Regions from separate parts of the Homo sapiens genome. Here region 2 is linked to region 1. Evidence: fine-mapped expression QTL. Tissue or cell type: whole blood. Region 1 holds a variant in brackets; the other region holds the start of a gene. All regions are shown on one strand. Distances are from middle to middle.

What was found. PIP is the estimated chance that this variant, and not a neighbour inherited with it, causes the effect.
Region 2: it holds the start of PADI4, and the variant in region 1 is fine-mapped to the expression of PADI4 in whole blood (INTERVAL, PIP above 0.99).

The regions. Positions count from the first base shown.
Region 1 is chr1:17,279,006-17,284,151 of GRCh38, reverse strand. PADI3 (peptidyl arginine deiminase 3) reads right to left here. Exons shown (of 16, transcript NM_016233.2): 14 at 3,723-3,802; 15 at 3,356-3,481; 16 at 1-1,306. The coding sequence ends at 1,073. Among named protein-coding and RNA genes, the nearest start is that of MIR3972, 3.7 kb to the right of the region's middle. The variant G/C (reference allele first, on the strand shown) is at 2,102.
Region 2 is chr1:17,306,122-17,311,267 of GRCh38, reverse strand. PADI4 (peptidyl arginine deiminase 4) reads right to left here and starts at 3,071. Exons shown (of 16, transcript NM_012387.3): 1 at 2,954-3,071. The coding sequence starts at 3,045.

The DNA.
Region 1 (5,146 bases):
CGAGAACCGCCCCCCCACCCCCATCCCCTGAATTCAGTGGTTCATTCCCAGAGTTTTCCCGCTGTGAGCTGCCTTGGTGGATCCAGCCCCTTAGCCCCCTCTCCTGCAGCAGAGCAGGATGTGGAAACGCTGACCAAAGGCCAACAGAGAGCCTGAGACCAATCCAGAGGAGAGGCAGCGTTCTCTCCTCCTGCAGAGAGAAGTCCCAGGGCCAATGAAGCAACCTTCTCCAGACACCTAATATTAACCATCACAAGGTGGATCACCATAGTCAACCATGTGTATTATGGGAACTACTTTTCACCCTTGTACCCAGTCTCCCTAGTACCCAACAATCCCCCAGATACTTTCGTCTCCAAGAAATTCCAGGAGGATTCTGGACAAGGCTGGATTTCTGCATGTCAGATCATGGGGAGTTTATAAGGCTAAGGGACAACTCTCATTGCTTCCACATGCATCTAGAAGCTCCTACTATGTGACAGCTCACGCTGGGTGAGGGTCAACATCTGGGCAGGAGCTTGGCCGGGTGAAAGATGGTTCCGCCCTGATCTAAGTGGATCCACAGCTCCCTTTTTATGGGGGAGGCTTTAGGAAGAATCTCTCCTGCCTGTCCTGCGTGGAGTGGTCTGGTTTTAGGGTTGTTCCTCTGCAGAGAGGAAGCAATTGGACCAAAGCAGAATCATGGATCCTTCCTCTGTTAGGATGCACAGGACAAGATGGCTGATGAGATACGTGGATGTTTCTAGACCCCAATGTGGATTTGTCCCCAAATGGATGATTTCAGAGTGAGAAGGGGACATCTCCATGGGTTGTGTTGAATCACAGGAGAGGCTATAAGAAATGAGGTCCTTCTTTTTGGGGGGCCGAGAAGATTCAAGTCTGAGAACCACATGGGTTGCAGGTGAGGCATGGACACTTCCAGGGAAAAGGCTTCTGAGAGGGACGGTCACCCTCAGTGTTCCATCTGGAGCCTTGGGGTCTCTTGGTGCTTATCGTTCAGGGGCCTGTCTCTGTCTCCACCACCTGGGCCAATGCCCGCCCCAGGGGGACAGGATGGTGGGTGGGAGCTGTCTCAGGGCACCATGTTCCACCACTTGAAAGAGAAGGGCTTTCTGCACACATTGGTGCCACAGTGCACCTCCCCATGCAGCATGTGGTATGGAGTGAAGTCATCAATGAAGGTGCAGTGGAGGCCCAGCGGCTCCAGCAGGGACCGCACCTTCTCCTCCAGGCAGCAGCAGCCATTGATGATGGGCCCAAAGGGCTTGGGGATGCCCAGGTGCTTCCCCAGCACCAGCATGTTCACCTGCAGTCCAAAGGGGAAGCAGCACTTCATCACTGGGCTCCCACCCCACACCTCTACTCTACCTGCAGGACCTAGGTTTGTGTTTTAGACAGCCTTGTCAATAGCTACTCACCCTTTCCTGTGCAATGAGAAGGTAACTGGCTAAAGGGGCTGGGAAGAACCGGTTAGCCAGGTGCCTTTGGGAGCATCCGCAGAACTCACTCTGGCAACGTGCTCTGGAAACTGCCCTAATGTGAATTTGGAATTGTGGATTGTGGCAGCTGCCATGTTTGTGCTGCAGAATCCCAACCTTCTAGGCCATAACTGATTGGGCCAGGGAGAACAGCTGGTCCAAGATGGACCAATCAGAGTCCCTCTCCCAGGAATTTGAAACTGACAATGGGAGCGTCTAGTTGGTCTCTGCCCGTGTCAGTGTCTCTGTGCATGGCCATACTCATCTTTGTCCCCAGGAACAGAGAAGCAAAGGAAGCCAAGCTGGAAGAAGAGGGAGAAGAAGTAGGAGGTGGAGAGGGTGAGAGAAAGAGAGAGAATGAATGATGTAGACACAGAAACAGAGAGGGTTCCAGGCTCTGCTGCAGCTATCCTGCCCTCAGGTTTCTGGTGTCCTTATATTAAGACTCCCTCTGGCTGAAGCTGGCTTCAGTAGGACTCTGTCTCTTGCGAACACAAGAACCTGAATCATTGCACAAACTTCTTGGGGCACATATATAATTACAAGATAGCCTCGAACAGGAAGGAAGGGGAGTGAAAAGAGGCTTTGCAAGCGGAGGGCAAAATGTTGCCTGAAAAGAGGAA[G/C]GAAAAAGCGGGGCATGAAGCAATGGTGGTGTGGACAGGTTCCCCACAAGGCTCTGACAATGGGCAAATTGAGTTCTTTTAGGGGATGAGGTGGGGAGGAGTGGAGAGGGGAGCTGGGTGACCTATAGCAGTGCTACTCAAACTGTGTTCCTCTAAAAGGCAGCATCAGCACCACCTGGGTGTTTGTTAGCGCGGCAGCAGTGCCTCGGGCCGTGCTTTAGACCTGCTGAATCAGGACCGCTGGGGTGGGGCCCCACCTGTCCAGGTGTTTCAAAGGCAAGCTCAAGATTTAGAAGCAGGCCAAGCACGGTGGCTTCCGCCTGTAATCCCAGCACTTTGGGAGGCCGAGGCTGGTGGATCACCGGAGGTCAGGAGCTCAAGACCAGCCTGGCCAACATGGCAAAACTCCATCTCTACTAAAAATACAGAAATTAGCCGGGCGTGGTGGTGCACGCCTGCAATCCCACAATCCCAGCTACTCAGGAGGCTGAGGCAGGAGAATCGCTTGAACCCTGGAGGCTGAGGTTGCAGTGAGTGAGATTGTGCCACTGCCCTCCAGCCTGGGCAACAGAGTGAGACTCCGTCTCAAAAAAAAAAAAAGAAAAAAAGAAAAAAAGATTTACAAGCATCAGAGGCAAAGCCCTCAAGGCTCAGTCAAAAGCCACTTCTTCCATGAAGACTTCCTGGATCTCCAGTTCTACCTCTTAGGCTGGAAGTGCTTTGTCTCACCTCCAAACTGCCACATCGCCTTATCCTACAAAATAGATCACTGGGACATGTCCTCAGAGAAGGGAAGAGTTTCCCTCTCAACCGATTAGACTGAAAGTCCCTTGAGAGCAGGGGGCATTCTTAATCATCTCTGCATCTGCCACAGGACACCCTAAATACATGTGGGATGGATGAAGAGCCACAAGCTGGGAGGAAGAGAGCAGAATGAGCATCTGGGTTCCCAGCTGATGCCATGTGCTTTGCACACGTGACCTCATGCAATCATTCATTCACTCCACAAATGTCAAGTGGACCCCTTCCCTGATGCCCCTTGGGCCAGGGCTTGGCCAGCAAGCATTCCACAGGGACCATGGTGGTCAGCCAGCTAGAAGCCCTTCTGAGGAGCACCATAGGACCCCTGATTCTCCCTGCCACCCCCACTGGCCACCACAATCCTAAATATGACTGTGACCAGACATTTTTCCTCTCTCGAGCTTAGAGGTTTGCAGCCTGATTTGGCAAAGGAGTCATGGGTAGTGCCCTCACCAAGTCAGGGAAGAAGGCCGTTGCTTTTTTCCTCTCGGTCTTGAAGAGCTGTGGGATGTCAATGATGTCACACTCTGCCAGGCCCAGCTCCCGCTTCAGCACCTCACGGTTCCAGTCGATGCAGCTCTGGGGGCAGGGGAGGGCCAGAGTTGGGGACACCTTGCCAGTGTGTTTTGGGGGCACCAAGGCATCCTGTCGCTCCCCTCACTTCTTCTGGGTCAAAAGAGGGTGTTGGGACCCCTCTGTCTGGGCCTGTTCTAACCTGAGCTTTCATGAACAGTTAGCCTCAGATGTCTGTATCCCATCCTTGCCTCCAGCCCCGCCTACTCCCAAATCACAGCCCACAGGTACACCACAGCCCTTGTACCTGCACAAACTTATTGTAGTTGATGAGGTCTTTATTGGAGAGCACCTGGTTGATGGAGATGGTCTTGACCTGCTCATCATCTGTGAAGGAGAGAGATGAAAGAGAAGGACAGGGACAGCACCAACGTGAGGACCACCTGCTTAGGGAAGCAGACAGGCAGGAGCCAAGTTCACAGCTAATGGTCTTGCCGAGTCAGCAGCCTCTGACTTTCCCAGGCCTTGGGTGGGTTCCACCTGTCTGAGCTTGCCTTGGCCACTGTGCACATCTTGGGGTATAAGGAGTGGGAGGGTCTGGTTGCCACAGTGGAATGAACTGAGACCTTTATTTGAGTTCACTGGAAGTGGTAACGCCTGTCACTGGAAATGTACAACTGCCCGAGGGCACTGGATGAGGAATCCTCTTGCTTTGGCTTAGCGGGGAGCTGGGTCAGTTGCTGCCCACCCACCCACCATCAGTCAGGTTTTATAGGTTCACTGAGCAGCGAACCAGCCAGTCCTGGGATTCAGACACCATCCAGCCCCAATCCTGCCCTTCAGGGGGTGACTGCGTGAAATGGGGACCTCCCAGGGGTCCAGATTTTCTCAGCCTGATGGTGTGCCCATGCAGATGAGACTGGACAGGGAAGCGGAGGCTAGAGTCAATGGCACACAATCCTCATGGCTGCTACTTAGTAAGCGCTTACCATGAGCAGGCCCCGAGGGGAGTGCCCAGGTTCAGCATCTCATTTAACCCTCACGGTGACCCCCACAAGGTATGCATTATGATCCCCACTTTACAGATGAGAAAACTGAGGCTCAGAGAGGTCAGAAGACTTGCCAAAGGTCACACAGGTAGGATATGTGGGGGCTTGTGATTCAAACCCAAGCCCAGGGCTCGCACAGGGCCTCAAGCCTTGACCAAGGGAAAGGAGAGGGCTCCCCTGACCCATCTGCAGGTCTAACGCCCGCTTCACCCCAGTTTAAGGCAGGAAGCTGGGGTCCAGTCCCAGCTCCACTGCAATCTTGCTGAGGCCTCTGGGCCAGTGACATCCCCTCTCTGAGCCTCACATTCTTGGGAATAAAGGTGGGTGAGAGTCATCCCATTTGATCTCTCGTGAGATCAAATGAGATAACACGTGTGATGCACACAGCGTGAGGCCTGGCGCACTGAGGTGTCTAATCAGTGCTCTGGCCTCTGTGTCTGGCCTCTGTGTCTATGTAATTAATCGCCACAGTCACTGCCTGAGTGTCAGCCCTCGAGGGTGGGGTGGCTGCTTGTGGCCTGCCATCTGTGAATTCTCCCACGCTCCCTCCCAGCTGGGCAGGTTGGAATAACTCTGCTCAACCCATTCCTGGGTCTTGCTCACCATAAGTTCTCCCAGGAAAGATGAAGGTGGCATTTCTCCCTGCCTGGTACATAATTTGGATTTAAGGATTTCTAAGACT
Region 2 (5,146 bases), 27 kb before region 1:
TTTTTGAGACAGAGTCTCACTCTGTTGCCCTTGCTGGAGTGCAGTGGTGCAATCTTGCCTCACTGCAACCTCCACCTCCCAGGTTCAAGCAACTCTTGTGCCTCAGCCTCCTGAGTAGTTGAGATTACAGGCATGTGCCACTACTCCCATCTAATTTTTTTTTTTTTTTTTGAGACGGAGACTCACTGTGTTGCCCAGGCTGGAGTTCAGTGGCACAATCTCGGTTCACTGCAGCGTCCGCCTCCTGGGTTCAAGCGATTCTCCTGCCTCAGCCTCCCAAGTAGCTGGGACTATAGCTGCGTGCTACCACGCCCGGCTAATTTTTGTATTTTTAGTAGAGACGGCGTTTCACCATGTTAGCCAGGATGGTCTCGATCTCCTGACCTTGTGATCCGCCTGCCTCGGCCTCCCAAAGTGCTGGGATTACAGATGTGAGCCATTGCGCCCCGTCTAATTTTTTTGTATTTTTAGTAGAGACGGGGTTTCCCCATGTTGGCCAGGCTGGTCTCGAAATTCTGACCACAAGTGATTTGCCCATCTTGGCCTCTCAAAGTGCTGGGATTACAGGCATAAGCCACCGTGCCCAGCTTGCCACCTTTAATTTATGTGACCCTCGGTTAGGTGTTTTTGCCTCTTTTTTTTTGAGACAGAGTCTTACTCTGTCACCCAGGCTGGAGTGCACTAGCCCAATCTTGGCTCACTGCAACCTCTGCCTCCCGGGTTCCTGACTTTGGGGACAGAGAGAATGGCTTGAGCAAAGTTATGGAGGCATGAATATGAGGGGCGGAGGTGAGGAGGGAGTGGCCCTCCCACCTGTGTGGTTCAGGAAGAGGCCGATGGCTGCTCAGGAGATGGGAGGGAGGCGCTGTCTGGGGCTATGTTAAGAACAGATAAGAAGTGACAGGAAGGTCTGGAACGGAGACCCATGGGGAGAATGGAGGGTCCTAGAGTCAGGCTGCCTGGGTTGAGTCCTGGCTCCCCTACTTATTAGCTGTGTGGCTTGAGGTGGGTTACTTAACTTCTTGGAGCCTCTGTTTCCTCTTTTGTAAAATGGGAATAACAACATTACCTGCCTCCCAAGGCCATTGAATGAGTTGAATGTAGGAAGTGTGATGTAAATATTAGCCATTGTTACGTGAGATGTTCAGGGGATAGAGTGACAGGCTCAACGTGTGGCTGAAGGAGGAGAAAAGAAGGATTTAGAGGCCCCTGTGAACTCCGGAGTCCCCATCCTTTCTGGGAGAAATGGGCAGTGCCTTCCTCTCTGCCCAACACTGACCAGCTGTCCACCCACCTCTCTAGGGCCAGAGGAAGCACTTGTGATCTTGATTACTACTCATGGACGCTGGGTAGAGGGCTAGCCTGGGCATGCTGGGAGAGGCCCTGGGCTAGCTTCAGCTCCTGTCATTTCCTTCACACCCATTCTCAGAGGAGTTGGGGGCGCCTCAGATGATGTCAGGTGATTTTCTTTTTCCTTTTCTCCCCAACTTCTTGGTCTCCTGCCTCCACCATGTGGCCCTGGGAGACCATCCCGACATTTCCTGCTGTTCTCTGGCTGCTGGGGCTCAGGCAGTAGCAAAGAAATGTCCCCGGCACTCCTGTGGGCACCATTCTAGGGCCACCGATGCCCAGACTGGGATGGGGAAGCCAGGGGCAACCACTCCTATTCCTGACAACAGCAATTGTTGCAGGATAATTTAGGAATCAGAGAGACCGAGGGGTTGAGGAGGATTTATTATTTAGATTCACTGGCTCAGTCAGGCTAACATTTCAAAAGACTGAGCCCTGAACAAAGAGTTAAGTTATCTTTTAAGCATTTCATGGGGCGGGGGTAGATCTGTGCAGGGGGAAGCATATTATAGAGGCAAGAAACAAAGACAGTTATTTAATTGAGACATGCATTATATTATTTTTTACTTTTTAAGGAAAAAAATTTTTACAGCTTGAGTTTATCTGTCTAGTGACCTTGCAGCTGCACAGCTGGAGAAACAGGGTCTTTACAATGCCTGGAAAAAGAGGAGCAATAAGGCTCACTAGCCACAAAAAAACAGGCAGTTAATTTTTAAGGGACTCCAGCTCTTTTTTTTTTTTTTTTCCAGGGAAAATTGTTTTTTTTTTTTTTAACATAGAACTGAGTTTTTGCTTACACGTTTTAAAATTTCTTTTAATTCCTGTTCTACAATAACAACAATGACCCTGCACACTCCCCGAGAGCATTCCTCAACTCTCTTGTTTAACCCAGACCCTGCCACAGAGCATGGCACTCAGCATTTGTTAAATGAGTAAATAAAAACTACCAAGGATGGGCCCACCACTGTGCTAAGTACTCAGCCAACATCTGCACATTTTTTCACATTGAATTCCTATAACCAGCCCATGATGTGAGTATTATCCCCATTTCACAGATGAGGCAACTGAGGCTCAGTTGCCCAAGGCCTCCTTGCTAGCCAGCAGCAGGTCCAGGCTTCCTACCTCAGTCTCTGCCGCCACAGAGCCCCGTTTCGCCATCCCCACCCACGCTATTATGCACCCACTGAGGGAGGCTTAGCTAAGAGATGTGGGGTAACAAACTGTGCTGTGAACCAGGAGGCCCAGGGGCTAACCTTACTTCCAGGGCACACGTGCTGTGTGACCTTGAGCAAGTCACAGACTCTCTGTAAGCTTCTGTTGCCTCGATGAAGACAGGGAGATGGATGGCCTGGTTTGCCCCATAATAATTTATCTGTCGTGTGTTCCTGGGGAATTTGCACTTGTACATGGCAAAGAACCCACAGCCATGAGACTGGCACTTCCCAGGGCTGCTGGGGTCTTCTCTCTCCAGCTACTCCCCTGGCAGTGGCTGCAGAGGCTGGAGCCTAGAGCCTGGGCCAAACACATGCTCCTGTGTCAGTAGAACTGGGTCATCCAGCATCTCCTGACCTGCCTCCAAAACCCCAGAAGGCCCCCCTCTTACCTGCAGATGTCAAGCTGAGTCAAGGTGCCCAGCACACACACGGCATGGGTGGGCTGCTCTGGGGTCACACGGATCAATGTCCCCTGGGCCATCGTCGGGCTAGCTCGTCCCTCTGGCTGTAGGAAGCCCCTGGGCTGGTTCCTTTATATCGCCCAGCAGAGGCCATGAGTCAGCACCTGCGGTCTGTGGCCCAGAGGCTCAACCCCTCCCCACTCAGGTCAGGGGTGTGGGCTCTCAAAATCTCCTCTGCCCTGGGGCTGCCCCTCGGACCTCTAGATGGGTGTCAATGCTGGTACCAGTGGCAGGGTGGCTCTGTCAGTTTCTTGGGAAGGATGGATGGCTCAGAAAGCCTGGGGTGGAGAGTGGGGCTGAGGGGTTGGGTCCTGGTCCTCATGCCCACAGTCCCATCCCTGCCTAGAGGCCCTGAACACCTTGATCTATCCAATCTCACCTATGTCAAACAGGCATATCAGAGAGGAGAAGGTGGGAAAAGCGGGGAGATTTTAGGTAAGCAGTCACAGGCCAGGCTACACGTTCAAAGACCAACCAGGCTTGGGACAAGTCTCTCCACCTGGGCCACCCACATGACAGCTCACATTCTCTATGCCAGGCACGTTTTCCTGCACTTCACATAGAATAGCTCATTACGACAAACCCGTGAACTAGATCATACCATTATCCCCTTATTTCACCCTCACAGCAGCCCTCTGAGGTTGGTGCCATTATTATACCCATTTTACAGAGGAGAAAACAGAGGTGCAGTTCTTCCACAGCTCGAGAGTGGTAGGGCCAGAATTGGAACCAAAGGTGTCCAGTTCCAGAGTGTGAGATTCATTAGCTGCCTGTCTATATGACACGTGCTTTCCAGACTGTATCACAGCTACATCTCGCTACAATACAAGGTGTATATGGGCTTATTATTACAACCCATTTTACAGAAGGAAAATTGAGGCTCAGAGAGTAAAAGTGACTAGCTCTTGCCCAAGGTGCCAGAGCTAGAATGCGGCAGAGCTGGGAAGAGAAGATGAGCTTCCTGGCATGGAAGTTGATGTTCTCTGCATGCTCCAGGATACCTGCCTCTTGCCAGGGCCTCTGGGTGTCAGACCAGACAGTGCAGGTGTGGGCCACGCCTGCCAGGGGGATGCCCATGTGGCCTCAGAGCTGTGGTTGCACCTGGGCCATTGGTGCCAGGCTCTGCCTTTAATGAGGCAACTGGGGGGTGGTGGATGGGTCCCAACAAGGAGCACTCAAAGGGTGCATGCATGGGAGTCTGGCGTGAACATAGAGCGTTTCGTGGGTTGGATATCTTGCGTTTGTTTTTTGTTTGCTTGCTTTGGCTTTGAAGCAAAGAATTTGCCTCATTAATTCAGAGTCAGGCTGTGGGATCAAACAGGCTTTAGTTCAAATCCTGCCTCATCTCAACATCCCTATGGAGTGCGTCCTATCAGGATGCCCATGTGTAGATGAGACCACAAAGACTTAGAGAGATTGAGTGAGACCCCCAAGGTCTCATAAGCCCTACAGTGGGGATCTGGATTCAGACCACCTTCTCTGGGCTCAAAATTTATCTTCTGTACCAGCAGATGATGATGTGGCCAGGTCCGACGTTCTGACGCATCTACATGACTGCCTGCACACAGTGTTAATAAACCCAATTTCTCTGGCTGACCGCATGATTAGAACTAGTTTGAGCTTCTACTGGGAAGTGGCAGGAGGGAGCTGTCCATTGTTAGAGTTGGGAGGGCCCTTAGAGAACACCCAATCCAGTCCTCGTTTTGCAGAAGGGGAGACTGAAGCACAGAAAGGGAGTGGGACCTGCCCACGGTCACACAGCAAATCAGAGGGAGGGCTGGCCTCTACCCCAAGTCTTAGGTCTCTTGAGGTTGTTTTCTTCTGTTCCTTCTTTTCTTTCTTATTTTCTTCAGCAGTTTGGGGTTTAAATTTGCTGTGAACGAGCCACAAAGAGGACGAGCCCCAAAGCAGTTTTGTTAATTCAACAAATACTGACTGAGTGCCTATTGATGGCCAGGCACTGTTCCAGGCACCGTGGATACGCTGTGAACAAAGTGGACAAAAATCCTGCCTTCATAGAGCCTTTTTGTTTGTTTGTTTTTGTTGGGAGAGAGACAGCCAGTAAGCAATAAATGCAGTAAGTGGATTCTATCGTATGTTAGTGGGGTAGAAAAAGGAAAA